Homo sapiens: one gene and its partners. The protein of the gene in region 2 purifies or fractionates together with the protein of the main gene of each other region. This does not show direct contact. Each region holds a gene or a part of one and is shown on either strand. Other genes may lie near its edges.

Region 1 (3,522 bases), on a different chromosome or scaffold from region 2:
ATGCCTCCCAACCTTCTCTGGGCCACCATCATAACCTCAAAATTCACACAATGTATAGCATCAAACCTTCTGAAACCTGGACCACCAGTGAGAATCATCTTTCTTGCCACCTCGTTTTCCACCGCCACCACCTCCTCCTCCAGAAGAGCGTGTGGTAGCAGCTGGCTTTGATTCTGTTCATAAACAAAGAGCACACACAGAAGCACGGCAAGGTTTTAGCTCTCTCAGCAATGTCTTCATGTATACGGTTTAATAAAAGACTCATTGCAGAATACACTGTGGCAACTGATCAGTTACTAAGTGAAGCACTATGAGAAAGAATACAAATACAAAGCTTACCAATCAGGGAGGCTCCCAAGGGCTATACTTGCATCATCTCATGAAATATGCACAATAACCCAATAACCCAAGAAATTATAGGACTGTTATACCCTTCACAGAGGGAGAAAGTATAGCTTAAGTAACTTGTTGGATGGGTGGCAGTGTTAGGGGACAGTGAATAAGTCACAGAGTTGGGATGCAAATTCCTCAGTCCCCACTCAAAGTTTAAAGTGTGTTCTGGCCACGCACGGTGGCTCATGCCTGTAATACCAGAATTTCGGGGGGCCAAAGCAGGAGAATCCCTTGAGCCCAGGAGTTCAAGACCAGACTGAGCAACAAAGCAAGACCCTGCCTCTGGCCGGGCGCGGTGGTTCACGCCTGTAATCCCAGCACTTTGGGAGGCCAAGGTGGGCGATCACCTGAGGTCGGGAGTTTGAGACCAGCCTGTTCAACATGGAGAAACCCTGTCTCTACTAAAAATACAAAATTAGCTGGGCATGGTGGCGCATGCCTGTAATCCCAGCTACTAGGGAGGCTGAGGCAGGAGAATCGCTTCAACCTGGGAGGCGGAAGTTGTGGTGAGCCAAGATCACGCCATTGCACTCCAGCCTGGGCAACAAGCGTGAAACTCCGTCTCAAAAAAAAATAAAAAATAAAAAATAAAAAAATAAAATAAAAATTAGCCAGGCATCGTAGTGTGCACCTGTGGTCCCAGCTACACAGGAGGCTGAGGCAGGAGAATCGCTTGAGTCCTAGAGTTTGAGCCTGTAGTGAGCTGTGATTGTACCACTGCACTCCAGCCTGGGCAACAGGAAGACCTTATCTCAAAAACAACAGCAACAACAAAACAAAACAAAAGTAAGTACTCCCTTTCCCACTCCCACAAAGTATACATTGTTAACACTTTCTTGTGCAGGAAAGCCCATGGTTTTGACAAATGGCTAAAAAAACACACCCACAGTTGGTATTCAGCTGGCATCTTTGCTTTGTAGGGAAATGTATGTAAGGAAAACTGTAAATCAGTCCTTGTTGTTGTTTTAGACGGAGTTTCACTCTGTCTCCCAGAGTGGAGTACAATGGCGTGATCTCAGCTCACTGCAACCTCTGCCTCCCAGGCTGGAGTACAATGGCGTGATCTCAGCTCACTGCAACCTCTGCCTTCCAGGTTCAAGCGATTCTCATGCCTCAGCCTCCCAAGTAGTTGGGATTACAGGAGCACGCCACCATGCCCGGCTAATTTTTGTATTTTTAGTAGAGATAGGGTTTCATCATGTTGGCCAGGCTGGTCTTCAACTCCTGACCTCAGCTGATGCACCCGTTTCGGCCTCCCAAAGTGCTGGGATTACAGGCGTTGAGCCACCGCACCCGGACCGAATACACTTCTAATGTCTTCAGTGACCATGAAGCAACCCCTCTAGTGTAGCAGGATGGGAGGCTACAGGCACCCGGTCATCCTCAGTGGCTATGTAACATGTGGCTTCATGACACATTCACTCCGCTATGCTGCATACGAGGGGCTTCTGCACCTCTGTCTCGAGTGGAGTCTGAGACAGGTATGATATGCACAAGCCTCAGCCCCCAGAATGAGGCCCAGGACTAAAAAACACGCAGTAAGCACACCACTAAAGCTGTGCAACACTCCAAACCACTCAGGGAGAAAGGAATGTCCACACAAAAGCAACCCAAAAGCTTGCATGGGTTATCATTACTCGGCCCCCACACCAAGACTCAAAGACCACCTAGCATGCACTGGGAGAACTGTAGGTACTGCTCCAATCTAGAGCCCCGGGGCTGTCACCAGCCCACACCAGTGCTTCTCCCTCCCCATGTCCCCTGGCTCTTACTCCTTTGCATTCTTTGGGCATATATTTGTCTGTCCAACTAGATGACAAGTACATTTAAAAACGTGGACTCCTCGAGGCCAGGTGCAGTGGTCACGCCTGTAATCCTAGCACTTTGGGAGGCAGAGGCGGGTGGATCACATGAGGTCAGGAGTTCAAGACCAGCTTGGCCAACATGGTGAAACCTCATCTCTTAAAAATTAGCTAGGCATGGTGGCGCATGCCTATAATCCCAGCTACTGTGGAGGCTGAGGCAGGAGAATCACCTGAACCCAAGAGGCAGAGGTTGCAGTGAGATCGTGCCACTGCACTCCAGCCTGGGCGACAGAGACCCCTCCTCAAAAAAAAAAAAAAAGAAACTGAATTACAGTTTTCTTTACATTTCCCTAAAAAAGCAAGGATGGGCCGGGCATGGTGGCTCACGCCTGTAATCCCAGCACTTTGGGAGGCCGAGGCAGGCGGATCACAAGGTCAGGAGATGGAGACCATCCTGGCTAACACAGCGAAACCCCGTCTCTACTAAAAATACAAAAAAAAAAAAATTAGCCAGGCGTGCGCCTTTAGTCCCAGCTACTCAGGAGGCTGAGGCAGGAGAATGGTGCGAACCCAAGAGGCGGAGCTTGCAGTGAGCCAAGATCATGCCACTGCACTCCAGCCTGGACGACAGAGCTAGACTCTGTCTCAAAAAAAAAAAAAAAAAAAAAAAAGCAAGGAAGTCAGTCAAAATGGGCACAGGAGGCCCACTCAGTCCCCCAGCCACCGTGCTCTAAAAAAGTCTCTCCGAATCCCTAAGGTGAGGTAATGCTCTGAGGAGCAATTTTTAAAACACTGCCCTAAACACAATATGTATCAAATAAATTGCATGTATTAGATTTCTACGATTTTTCTCAATGTTTTAAATTATGTGCCAGATATCTACCAAATATGCTTAGTTTGACCAGACAATACCTCTAAGGTAGCCTTAAATTACTTCAATTTGCAAAATGACAGAAAAATATCAACAGAAAATTAAGGTGAAATGTAACATAAGGTCTCTAGAATTTTATATGTACTTGCAACCTACAGCTTCACAACTGACTTACTATAACTTTCTTTTTTTTTTTTTTTTCTTTTTTTTTTGAGACAGGGTCTCTCTGTTGCCCAGGCTGGAGTGCAGTGGCACAATCACAGCTCCCTGCTGGGCTCAGGTGATTCTCCCACCTCAGCCTCCCAGGTAGCTGGGACTACAGGTGTGCACCACCATGTCTAACTAATTTTTTGTATTTTTAGTAGGGACAGAGTTTCACCACATTGCCCAGGCTGGTCTCAACCTCCTGGGCTCAAGTGATCCACCCGCCTAGGCCTCCCAAAAGGCTGGGAT
Region 2 (3,522 bases):
CCTTTTCCATGACCATGGAAATACTGTCCAGGAAAGAATTCCACCAAAAATTAGTTTTTATATCTGAAAATAAGATCAGTTAAGGTACTAAAAGAAAACTTCTTTGGGCATTGTCCAGCTTATAATACTGCCCTTTTATAATCAACCCACAAAGATAAATCAAGGAATAAACTTATCAATAACCAAAAAGGTCCACATCCATGCCAATAAATTTATAAAAATTAAAAAATACACTACAAATCAGATATTGAAAGTGCATGCAAATTATCTTATGAGAACTGTCTTGCAACCTGACAGGATATTAAAAAAATAGAAACTAAAAATTCAATAAATAAATAAAAAGAGAACTGTCTCAACATAGAAAACAATCAAATAAATATGTACACTGAGTCAGAAAATTATTTTAATAGTTACAAAAATTTTTTTTTTTTTTTTTTACAGAATCAGTATAAAATAGCAGTTGATTTCTCCATAATTATCAGAATTATTTATACTTGAGGTCTTGGCTAAGTGGGGCTGAAATCAACAAAAGGTCTTGGACTGTTGGCTCAGAAATCATCCTAGAAAGCCCGCCCTGTTGATATCTGTCATGCTTAGCTCTTATGAGATGACCCAGTCCTTAAAAAAAAAAAAAAAAAAAAAAAAAAAAGAATCTCTCTTTATTCATTCTTTGGAGGCTTGAAGTGAATTCGGCAGCGTTCATTAAACACCTAAAATATTGAAACAGAAACAAAAGTCATTGAGTTATCCTGCGTAAATCAGGCCTGGAACTAAATTCAATTTAGTAGGCTCCAAAAGGCTATTACCATTTTTGTCCTAAGTCAACAGATTTAGGAAACAGAAGAGTTTCCTCAGCAGTTCAAACTGACTTATGAGGTGCCAAATGCACAGAAGGCCTTGACATCCATTTACAAGACAATTCTAGTATTTTAATAAAATTTAAGTTACTTCGGGAAAAAATCATCAAGAGCCAGGTAATTTAGTTACTAGCAAACATTTCAATTTCATATTCTGGACATTTTTTAAACAACAACACAAAAATATCTAAAATAAGTTAAATAAAGAATGCTCAATAACTAAATGTCCACATGGAACTGTGTTAAATAAAAATTTGGTATGGTTATTCAATGGAATACATGCAAGGTTAAAAATAATTTATGTTCTGATTTAAAAAGATCTCCAAGATTATCAAGGGAAAAAAAAGTGTGAATAGTACAGTTTCACTTGTGTAACAAAGGTAGAAAAATACACACACACATAAAATTAGAAAAGGTTTGAGTATCTGAAAGCATATACCATCTTTCAGAGGGAAGGGAAAGTAGGAGGTAGCTGAAGGAGAGGGACAGAAGGCAGAATTTTTACTGTATATTACTATTTTTAAAATTTTTAAAACATTTTTAATATTAAAAAAATTTAAATCATGTCAAAAATTTTAAGTGTCCAATTATAACAATTCTGAAATTGAAAAGAATTTTTTCTCAGAATTTACCCCCATACATCATTAATGTAAAGAACAAATCACTTTTTAGGTTAAAAAAAAACAAACTACCTATGTTGGCTGCCATTGACTATTATAAAAATAAAAGAAAAATCTAAACACAGAGGTTGTGAGGTACTGTTACTCTATTTCTTTTTATTTATTTATTTTTTTGAGACGGAGTTTCGCTCTTGTCGCCCAGGCTGGAGTGCAATGGCGTGATCTCGGCTCACTGAAACCTCCACCTCCTGGGTTCAAGCAATTCTCCCGCCTCAGCCTCCCGAGTAGCTGGGACTACAGGCACCCGCCACCATGCCCAGCTAATTTTTTGTATTTTTAGTAGAGACGGGGTTTCACCCTGTTGGTCAGGCTGGTATCGAACTCCTGACCTCAAGAGACCCACTCACCTCGGCCTCCCAAAGTGCTGGGATTACAGGCGTGAGCCAGTAAAGTGCTGCGCCTGACCTATTATTCAATTTCTTAAGCTGAGTGGTAGATACATGAATATTCATTTTATTAATATTCATTAAATTCTACATGTCACATAATCTTTCGCATATGCATCTCACAATTAATAGAAAATATGTAGAAATTATATAGACTCTGTCTAGCCCTTTTGTCTTACAATTCATCTCACCCATTTCCAGCCCTGACATTTCCCTGAAATTCCCAATCAGACAAGAGGGAGGCTTCAGTTTAGTGGCCTTGACACACTGGTTGGGGTGATATATACAACTTGGCTGAGCTTCTCCAAATCCTTTTCCCAAATGATTTCCTATCCACTTCTGCTGGCCCACTGCACCAGAGCACCATGGCTACATTTTCTTCTTTTTAAAACAAGTAGGGGCCTCATCTTCTGTGGAGTGGATAGAACATATTTTCTTTAAAACTAATATTAAATTCAAAATAGTTCACTCTTCCCACTACATTTTACATATATCATAAACTTCTGCACTTGTTTTTTCAAGCCAGATGTTTCATTGTACCCCTTCCCCATCCAATCCCAAGAGTAAATATTATTTTTCCAGAGAATATAAATGGGAAATATTGCCAAATCCTCTCAAGTGACAGACACCTTATCATGTTGGTGGAAAGGGCAGGAATAGGAAACCTTGGCAAAGAGGATAAGATAGAGAAATGTGATAAAGCAAAGAAAGCCAATTTGTATTTTGCAATGTGTTCATGTCTCAGCAAGCCGGTACATTCTGGTTTTGGTTCAGCTAACCTCTCTTATAAGCATATAGTTTAACAACATTCCAGTAGTTAAATTCAAATGATAAAACAGAATTTTCAGTACATTTTCTCAGATTTAATAGATTTTTGCCCTTCGTAAATCTTTTAGAGTTTTAGAGAGGGGTAAATGGATATACTTTTTCAGAAAACTAAAGTCAGAGTTTCATGAATTTTGACTATATGTTTCTGGGATCTGGTCCCCTAATCTAGTTCCTAACAAGAACTATGCAATGATAATAAGGAGCTTGTAAATCTATGAGCAATAAAAAGCCTTATCAGATACCAGTAAAACTACATATAATAACAAGTTTTATGATCAGGTAAGTTAGAAGACAAGCAACCGTATAGGTTACCTAATGATAGGAAAACTTACGGAAAGTAACTGAGCTCAAAAAGGCTAATTTGAACAAATAGCCTCCTTGAAGGTTCTGAGTAGTAACTCTAAATAGCAACCATGCCTGTAATTAGTGTTAGGAGACATAGAGAATGTCTCTAATGCTGTTATGATGGCAGCTCATTCAGTTCTATCATATGCTTATAAAGCTAATTTTGTTTTGTTTTGTTTTGGTTTTTTTTTTTGGAGATGGAGTCTCATTCTGTTGCCCAGGCTGGAGTGCAATGGCTTGATCTCAGCTCACTCCAACCTCTGCCTCCTGGGTTCGAGCGATTCTCCTGCCTCAGCCTCCCGAGTAGCTGGGATTACAGGCTCATGCCACCACGCTAATTTTTGTATTTTTAGTAGACACCTGACTTCAGGTGACCCACCCACCTTGGCCTCCCAAAGTGTTGGGATTACAGGTGTGAGCCACCTC
Region 3 (3,522 bases), on a different chromosome or scaffold from region 2:
CTCCCGCAGAAGGGTTAGGAGGCGCTTGGAAACCCTGCCTGGGGACATGGAGTTCATGAGACAGCAGATTGGGCAAAGCTGCAACAGCCATATTCATTCAGATGCACCAGGGGCACTTACTGCGCCAGCCACTGGCCAGGTCCCTGATGTTGTGGCACGTGCTACAGTTGTGGTCCTGACCTTTCTCCTGTCTAGTTGTGATGCCCGTATCTATTCTCAGGGGCCCTGGGTGACCAGAGTGTCCTTGAGAGTGAGTCTCAGGCTGTCTGCTTATCTACCCAGAGCCTGGGGCTTGGCCTCAAAGGCGCATTGCACGCGAATCTCAAAGACACAAGTCAGTGTAAGCCCCATTGCTGAGTGCCTCCCACAGCACTGTCTGTGGTCCCAGCTGCTGGGATCTGGTCCTGCCTTGGGCCAGGTTGCTGCCCAACAACGAAGTGCACATGCTGCCCCCACGCATGCCAGGATTGGATCCTGTGCTTCTGACTGCTGCTCTCTGACAGCCGCGTGGCCTGAAGTTGGATGCCAAGTCAGCTGGGTCCTCTCACCTGGGACCCTCAGGCCCAAGTGTCAGTCGGTGGACTATGGGATGTTTGGAGCCTCTGGGAGGGGCCTCAGGCAGTGGTTGTTTTGGTCACCCATGGTAGCCACAGCTGGCAGAGCTCTGCTCCCTGTGAATGAGCTCTGAACTCAGCCTGACCCATGGCAGAAGCTCAGGGGATGTTGGGGTACTGGATAGGTGGATGAGGGGCTTGCCTGCACCGCCTAGTTCTGGACCTGCCGCTGTTTGTCCATGTGGTGTTAATGGGCATTGCCTCCTGAGGGCCTTACTGTCCTCTTGTGAGGAGGGTGTTATTCTCTCCATCTTGCAGTTAAGAAAACTGAGGTAGGCTGGGCACAGTAGCTCACACCTGTAATCCTAGCACTTTGGGAAGCCGAGGAGGGCAGTTCATGCGAACCTAGGAGTTCAAGACCAGCCTGGGCAACATGGCGAAACCCCATCTCTCCAGAAAAGTACATTTAGCCAAATGTGGTGGCGTGTGCTCAGCCTCCAGAAGTTATGAAATTTCCACCTACTTGTGAAATCCTAACCCACTTGTGTTTGTTCATTCCCCTAATGGCCCATATCACATCCCGCCTGTTAAGGAAAGAGCAGGTCCTCGGAGGCTGAGTACAAGTAGCTCCAGCTACTCGGGAGGCTTAAGCAGGAGAATCTCTTGAGGCTGGGAGGCTGAGGCTGCAAGTGAGCCATGATTGCACCACTGCACTCCAGCCTGGACGACAGAGTTAGACTCTGCTTCCAAAAAAAAGGCCAGGTGTGGTGTCTCATGCCTGTAATCCCAGCACTTTGGGAGGCCGAGGCGGGTGGATCACCTGAGGTCAGGAGTTTGAGACCAGCCTGACCAACATGGTGAAACCTCGTCTCTATTAAAAATACAAAATTAGCTAGGCTTGGTTGTGTTCACCTGTAATCCCAGTTACTTGGGAGGGTGAGGCAGGAGGATCGTTTGAACTGGTGAGGTGGAGGTTGCAATGAGCCGAGATTGAACCACTGCACTCTAGCCTGGGTGACAGAGCGAGAGTCAGTCTCAAAAAAATAAATAAAAAATAAAAGACCCAAACCAAAACAAAAAAAGATTCAGAGAGGTTGAGTAATTTGTCCAGGGTCACACAGCTATTGAGAAAGAAAGCTAGGGTTCTGGTCCCAGGTCAACGTGGTTCTCGTTCTGCTTCCTTGCTGCTTCCCAGCTCCCTGAGGGAATGTAGTATGGTGTTTTGCAGCCTTCACCCCTGAGGAAGCAAAGGGCCTGTATCAAATGAGCTGCTATTTTGAAAGAAGCTTTGTTACTTCATAGTGCCTGGTCATTGTCAGATTTTGTGAAACAGTAGTAATGAATGAAAACCAATGTTTATTGAGCACCTGCTGTACCATTAGGCTGTGTGCCAGGCATTTGACAGGCATTATCTCAGCTTTATTGGTGGCCACATTTTACAGGTAAGCAAACTGGGTTGCTCAAAGGAGTTGAGAACGTGTCTATGTCAGATAGCTGGGATTTTTGCACACAGGTGATCCCAAAGCCTGCAGGTGTAACCATTACACTACACTGCGTCTTCTCAGAGATGCCTCCTATAGGAACCTTGCTGGCCTCAATGGGCCGTCCAGTCTGCTGAAACTTTGCAGGCCAGCCCCCCTCTGCCCTGCAGCTCTAGGCAGCTGAAGCCACAGGCCACCACGCCGCTTTGGTTTGAAGTGTGCAGGGGATGGTCGGGGAAGCTCCCCAGTTATGACCTCAGCTCTTACCGTTCATTATTTTGCAACAGTCATTGGCCTTGGCAGAAAAGTAAACAAGTGATTGCAAGGCTGTACGATGGCAGCAGAGGGACCGAAGGCTGTTGGTGTGAGGGGTAGTCTGAGACCTGAGCCGTGTTTCAAGCCGAGGGGACCCTCTGACTTTCACCTCTGTCCTTCAGACAGCACCAGCATCCCATCCCTGAGCCTCCTGTTCCACTCGGGAGGGGCTTTAGGAAGGAGGCGAAGTCAGGTGAGACCGCAGGTGTCATCAGGTGCATCCCTGACCCTCCCTCATCTGCAGTACAGCCACAGCCCTGCCCCTCGCTGTGATCACAGGAGGGTCTTCTCTGGGCTCTTTCTGCTGTGAAATCCAGAAGTTATGAAGTTTCCACCTACTTTTGAAATCTTAACCCACTTGTTTGTTCATTCCCCTAATGGCCCATAATGACATCCCACCTGTTAAGGAAAGAGCAGGTCCTCGGAGGCTGAACAAGGCCAGCTCTGGAGTCGAATCCACTGGAATCTGGAGCAAGCCCCTCTGGCCTCGGGGTTGGGTTCTTGATACTTGTCGGCTTGCCCAGGTGCCCTACCTTCAGACCCCGGGACCCTGCGTAGTGACTGCTGTGACAGATAGCACCAGCCTTGGGTTTCCGATCTGCCTCCGAGGCACCTGCTGTTACGTCCTCGGGCCAGTCAGCAGTCCCCCACCCCTGAGTTGTCAGAATTAAACGGCACAATGAATTGAACGTGTTTGGCACCGTGCCTGGTGTGTGGACTCAGTTGATACTTGTTGACTGAAGGCAAATCTACAGAAAAGCACTAGGAAGAAAGGGAAAGTCACTCGGCTGTGCCACATGAGCTTTCAACCTATGCCGAGCTGCCTCCAGCCCGCGCCACCCCCCTGCGTCTACGGCTTTGCAGTCACAAGATCCTTTGTATGTGCTGTCTATATATAATCGCTTTGTTTCACAAAGATCTGTGCATCTTTCCATGTCATCCGCCAGATTCCCAGTCTTTCCCAGGCCAGCCTAGGCTATTGGCTGCTCGCAGGAACTCCCTTCTGCCTTCTCTCCTGCCAGTTTTGGCTCAACCCAGTCCCTCTGCCTAGAAAGCCCTAGTATTTCCATCATGATTCTTCCTACCCTGCAAAGCCCAGCCCAGGAGGAACCCCCTCCTCTCACGGAACCCCCTCCTCTCACAGAACCCCCTCCTCTCACACAATCCCCTCC
Region 4 (2,280 bases), 3.7 Mb from region 2:
AGAATCTAGGTGGTTTTAGATTAGCTGTCACCAGAAAAGCTCAAGTCTTTGCTTCGGCCATGGGTTCTGGCACTAGGATTGGATGGACTTGGGATCAGGTCTCAGCTCTGTCACCTGCCAACCGGCGGCCCCATTTCCCTCAACAGCACTCCGTTAAAAGCACGGTGAGACCCACATCAAAGAACAAGCCAGGTGGGAGAGCCATCTGCAGCGTGGTGACACCCATCACACGGGTGCCGTGACCCGGTGCTTATGTCGGGTCATCCGCAGGTGGCTGGTGTGGCCCAGGCCCTGCTGACGGAGAGGCTGGACCATCGGGCACCGTGTCTCCCATGTGCAACGGGCTTTTATCTCTCTTGCAGGGTTCTTCTTTGAGCCAACTGTTTTCACAGACGTGGAAGACCACATGTTCATAGCCAAGGAGGAGTCCTTCGGGCCTGTCATGATCATCTCTCGGTTTGCTGATGGGTAGGGAATCCTGCTGATGTCTCAAGGGCCCTGACTCTCTCCCACGTGTTACTGGGGTCTTCATGTGGGCTTTGGGAGGTAGTCTACGGGCAGTCAGGAGGAGAACTCAGGCAGGGCGCAAGCCGTGGACACCCCGCTTGTGCCGCCTGCTGAGTCTCCACACCCCTGAGAAGAGAGCCCAGTGACCTGGGGCTTTGAGTCCCCCCTGTGAGCAAAGGCAGCTCCCTTCCCTGTCCTTGTCACTTGTCACATGCTCCAGCATGTTTCTCACAGCCCGCTGGGCTCTGTTCTAAGGTCTGTTACCATGCATTAAACCACCCCCCACACTGAGTGGCTTGGAATAATCAGAGATTTATTTTAGTCACGGTCTAGGTTCAATGAGGCAAACCCATCTCTGCTCCATGCAGTGTCTGGCCTCAGCTGGGGTGACAGAGTGGCTATCCTGATGCTGCTGGGGGTCTTGCGGGAGGCTTCCTCCGCGTGGCAGCCTCGGGGTTGCCGAGGCACCTGGTTCCCTTCGGAGGCCAGGTGGAAGCCAAAAGGCTCTTTATAATCTAGCTCTTTAGAATCCCAGAGCATCCCTTCCACCACGGCCTGTTGATGAAGCAAGTCACCCAGACCAGGCTGGGCTGGAAGGGAAAAACTGTACTCCACTCACAGTGGGGCCACTGAGGCCCATGCTGTCACTTCTCAGGCCTGCCCCTTGTCTCCGTAGCACCTTGGAGCAAATTGCAAAATCGTGCCTCGTCCTCACATTTTACTATCCAACTACCAAAAAAACCCCAGAAATTATCATCGTATGTCAGTGGTATTAGAATAAGAGACTTCACTGCCACCTAGCCAATAAATATGGTTGTAGTAAGTCTCCAAATCGCTGATGTCTGGTGAATGCCCAACCTGCGGCGGGCACATGTGGGTCCTTCTGCATGTGAGGACCCAGCGGCCCCTCTCTGGGCCCCTGCTCCCAGTCTGTGGAATAAAGGGCTCACCCGATGATCCAGGAGCCCCTGTGGTGGCCACCTGCCCATGGGCCTCTGCCCTTCCTCCTCGCTCGCAGCCCAACCCAACCCAATCTTGCCCCCGGCGCTGCAGCCCGGCACATTTTCTCCTCGGAAGGTCTTATGCAGCTGGGGTGTGGAGTGGGCCGGGGTGTGGAGTGGGCCAGGCTCTCCTCTGCACCTCCCTCAGGGAGTTCTTCCTGGACTTTCTCTCCAGGGACTTGGATGCCGTGCTGTCTCGGGCCAATGCCACGGAATTTGGCCTGGCTTCTGGTGTCTTCACCAGGGACATCAACAAGGCCCTGTATGTCAGTGACAAGCTCCAGGCAGGCACTGTGTTTGTCAACACGTACAACAAGACCGACGTGGCCGCTCCCTTCGGAGGATTCAAACAGTCTGGATTTGGCAAAGATCTAGGTAACCTACTCCTGCCTGTGGGGTTGCTTTCATTTATTCATTCAACAAACATCTGTTCAAAACCACTTAGGGCCAGGTCCTATCTCAGATGCAGGGACGTAGCCTTGAACATGATGGCTGTCAGGGTTCGCTTCTTACTGGGAGGGAACTTGTGACAAGTCCGTGAGCAAGATGCTTGCAGAGGGGGGTCGTGCTGGGAAGAAGGCAAGAAGAGGGGCCTGGAGGAGACACTCCAGCCAGGAGGCACTGGGGGCCTCTCTGGTGTGGTGGCACCTGTGCTACCCAGACCTGCATAGCAGGGAGGAGTTGGCCATGAAGACCCAGGGGCCCGTGTTTCTGGCTGAGGGTTCAGCAGGTCCTTGGGGGAACCAGCTTTGGTCGTGGAGCTGCAGAGAGG
Region 5 (3,522 bases), on a different chromosome or scaffold from region 2:
AAGGCCCTTGTCTTTGAGCTTCTGCTTTTTTTACCTCTAAAGTGGGATTAATGACCATGTACACAACTGGCAAGATCAAAGGAAATGAACTAGGTGAATGTAAATTCATGCAAACATACTATTTTGGCAGTAATGATGGCAGACACCAAAATGATTATATTCTTACCATCCCTTTCCTTTCTACAATGCTCTGATGATAAGGTGAGCTTTACCTCCCGAAGAACAAGACTATATTCTGAGTATGTACCTAGCATGTTTATTACTCTCAGTAAATAGAAATCTTTTTTAGTCAGTAAGCATGTTTCAAAAATATTTTGAGTTATTTAAAAGAAAAAAATTGCACATATGAAAATCGTTTCAGAACTTTTATTGAAGCGGGCAAAAGAAAAGTGAGCTAGCAAGTTATAGAAGAGGCTATGACATAGATACAGTTATGAACTTGTTCTTCAAATTCATTTACTTATTTGATTTAATGTTCAAATTATTACAACAACCTAACTCTTCTGAAAGTTAAATACCCTCTTTAAGGGGTGTCATAAAAAGAGCACTGCACTGAGAATCAGAAAACAGAAGCCAGTCCTGGCTTTGCTACTAACTAGCTGGGTCCAACCTTGGGAAAATAGCTGCATTTCTCTGAGCCTCACTCTCTTCATGTATGAAATAGAGGATTGAACTACAGTCTGGAAATAAATGCATTCAATTCAGAAATTTTAGAGAACTTATTTCCTGGTGTGTGTTAAATTTTATTAACATTTAAATCAGGCTGTAGGATCTCAGGTATGTTGGAAATGTGTTACATGATAAAGGTGGTATTTCATACTGGAGGGAAGGGTAAGATGGATTATCTAGTAAATAGTATTGGGATAACTGGCCAACCATTGGTGGGGGAAGCCCTCAAATCCTATCTTTTAAAATCATAGTAAGTGCTATATTATAACAATGCATATGTAGTTAACAATACTGTATGGTATACTTACAATTTGTTAATTGAGCACATTTTTCTTATGTGTTTTTTACCATAATAAAAAAATCAAAATATAGATGGATCAAGGATTTAAATATAAAAAGTAAAATCACAAGGACTATAAAAAAGCACAACTGAATAATTTGACAATATTTAATAATCTTAAAGTGTGGGGTAGGCCTTTTTAAGTATGATACGAACCACCAAAGTAATGAGAGAAAAGACTTAGAAATATAATTATGAAAATAAAAAACTTATGCATGGAAAAAATGGCTGTCCCCAAGATTAAAAGTCAACAAACTGAGGAAAATATTCACAACACATGTAAGAGTTAAAAGGCTAATTTCCTAAATATAGAAAATATTTTTGCAAATTAATGAGATAACCATCCCAGTTTTAAAAAATATAACCAAAGGGCATAAATAGGCAGGTTACAGATAAATAAATTAAAAGTGCACATAAATATATGGACAGCTTCTCAGCTTCGCTAATAATAAACAGCAAGAGATTATCATATTTTTTTCTCACTTATCCAGGCAGTTTAGCAATAAAATGTTGATGCTGTTTAACCCACGCATTCCACTTTAAAAACAAAAAACCCCAAAACTATTATCCAGAAATGTGTAAGCCCTCAAAGATATATCGACAAGGTTATTACCCTAGTTTATAGTGTTATAAATAGCAATAAATTGAAAATAACAAATATCTATCATAAAGGTAGTTGCATAAATTACATATTCATAAAATGGGTTACTGTGCAGCAGATAGAGTGAAATTGATAAGTATGTACTGATGAAACATCAATGCTTTATGGTCACATAACAAAAGTCCTTGTAAAACAGTATTGATGCAGGACTTTTTGCTCCTTAACTCAGCTAAAATCTGGGTTCTTGTCTCACAACCAGGAAAAATTAGGCACGTGGACACATTGAAAGGTGAGGAGAGTGGAATTTATTAAAAGAAAGCTCTCAGCAAAAAAAGAGGGGGTCCTGCCAACAGGCTCCCACCTCACAGATTGAATACCAGGCCACCACACAGGAGCTGAAGAGGCCAGGCTCTTCCCCTGCATAAGGCAGAAATTCCTGGTGGCTCCACCCCCATTCTTCCAGTGCTCATGCGGGCCCTTAGTCTGAGCCACGCCACCTTGATTTATTTCCTTTACTGTGCATGTGTTAAGGGACAGAACTTTTCACCATGGACATGTTGAGTCAAGCCCACTGTGCATAATGACCTGGGTGGCATTTGGCTGTCTCCTGTCTCTATCACTGTGTTCTAGATTTTTATAATAATATTTGTAGAAAAAAATACAGGGAAATGCACATCAAACTTAACAGTCGTTACCTATAGGGATGGGAATAAATACAGAATATCACTTTCTAAAATTTTTTAACATAATGTAATGCTTGCATTTTTTATAAGGATAATAAATTTTTAATTGGAAATATTAGTATATTAGATATAAACATTGATTTTAAAGTAACATTTAAGATCTTATAAATCGGCCGGGCGCGGTGGCTCACGCCTGTAATCCCAGCACTTTGGGAGGCTAAGGCGGGCGGATCATGAGGTCAGGAGATAGAGACCATCGTGGCTAACATGGTGAAACCCCGTCTCTACTTAAAATACAAAAAATTAGCCGGGCATGGTTGCAGGCGCCTGTAGTCCCAGCTACTCGGGAGGCTGAAGCAGGAGAATGGCGTGAACCCGGGAGGCGGAGCTTGCAGTGAGCCAAGATCGCGCCACTGCACTCCAGCCTGGTGACACAACGAGACTCCGTCTCAAAAAAAAAAAAAAAAAGATCTTATAAATCCTGGAAACACTGATGTAGAGAGTCATGTTTACGGTCTGTTCCATCAAACTTAGTGACTGAGTTCCCAATTCCTCTAATTGAAAGAAAAGTCCAGATTAACACAAAATAGTAGTTGAAAAGGGTTTGGGAGTTGAGTGTATTCCTTTATCATACCTTCTTTAATTTTACTTGCAGATTCCGTTGCAGACGCTCTGGATGGCGAATACCATTAAACTTCTGGATTTGGTAGAAGTTAACAGTTCAGTCCTTGCTGGTACTAACTTTTGAATAGCTAACATGGAAGCTGTTTTCACTGTAGTGTATCTGGAAATACGTCTGTTTTATCATATGTCACAATTACTAAAAATAACTTTTAGTTTGTTTCAGTTCAGTAATTATAATACTTTACATTCACTTATTGTCTTATTCTTTGCAACACTCATTCTCATATATTTTCTCATTTAATCATTACAAGAACAGGCCAGGCGCGGTGGCTCACGCCTGTAATTCCAGCACTTTGGGAGGCCAAGGTGGGTGGATCAGCTGAGGTCAGGAGTTCGAGACTAGCCTGACTGACATGGTGAAGCCCCGTCTCTACTAAATACAAAAATTTAGCTGGGCATGGTGGCACATGCCTGTAATCCCAGCTACTTGGGAGGCTGAGGCAGGAGAGTCACTTGAACCTGGGAGGCAGAGGTTTCAGTGAGCCAAGATTGCGCCGCTGCACTCCAGCCTGGGCAATGAGTGAAACTCCATTTCAAAAAAAAAA

What was found.
Region 1: the proteins of MIX23 (region 2) and AFG3L2 purify together in Homo sapiens (affinity purification with mass spectrometry; one large-scale study listed by BioGRID and IntAct). This does not show direct contact.
Region 3: the proteins of MIX23 (region 2) and PAM16 purify together in Homo sapiens (affinity purification with mass spectrometry; one large-scale study listed by BioGRID and IntAct). This does not show direct contact.
Region 4: the proteins of MIX23 (region 2) and ALDH1L1 purify together in Homo sapiens (co-immunoprecipitation; one large-scale study listed by IntAct). This does not show direct contact.
Region 5: the proteins of MIX23 (region 2) and MTFMT purify together in Homo sapiens (affinity purification with mass spectrometry; one large-scale study listed by BioGRID and IntAct). This does not show direct contact.

The regions. Positions count from the first base shown.
Region 1 is NC_000018.10:12,367,210-12,370,731, forward strand, and holds part of AFG3L2 (mitochondrial inner membrane m-AAA protease component AFG3L2), read right to left. Parts: intron 174-3,522; coding exon 67-173; intron 1-66. UniProt on the Homo sapiens protein: Catalytic component of the m-AAA protease, a protease that plays a key role in proteostasis of inner mitochondrial membrane proteins, and which is essential for axonal and neuron development.
Region 2 is NC_000003.12:122,359,210-122,362,731, forward strand, and holds the end of MIX23 (protein MIX23), read right to left. Parts: intron 711-3,522; coding exon 660-710; 3' UTR 382-659; downstream 1-381.
Region 3 is NC_000016.10:4,344,807-4,348,328, reverse strand, and holds part of PAM16 (mitochondrial import inner membrane translocase subunit TIM16), read left to right. Parts: intron 1-3,522. UniProt on the Homo sapiens protein: Regulates ATP-dependent protein translocation into the mitochondrial matrix. Inhibits DNAJC19 stimulation of HSPA9/Mortalin ATPase activity.
Region 4 is NC_000003.12:126,105,329-126,107,608, reverse strand, and holds part of ALDH1L1 (cytosolic 10-formyltetrahydrofolate dehydrogenase), read left to right. Parts: exon of another isoform or gene 1-362; coding exon 363-468; exon of another isoform or gene 469-1,683; coding exon 1,684-1,883; exon of another isoform or gene 1,884-2,076; intron 2,077-2,280. UniProt on the Homo sapiens protein: Cytosolic 10-formyltetrahydrofolate dehydrogenase that catalyzes the NADP(+)-dependent conversion of 10-formyltetrahydrofolate to tetrahydrofolate and carbon dioxide.
Region 5 is NC_000015.10:65,005,618-65,009,139, reverse strand, and holds part of MTFMT (methionyl-tRNA formyltransferase, mitochondrial), read left to right. Parts: intron 1-2,948; coding exon 2,949-3,027; intron 3,028-3,522. UniProt on the Homo sapiens protein: Methionyl-tRNA formyltransferase that formylates methionyl-tRNA in mitochondria and is crucial for translation initiation.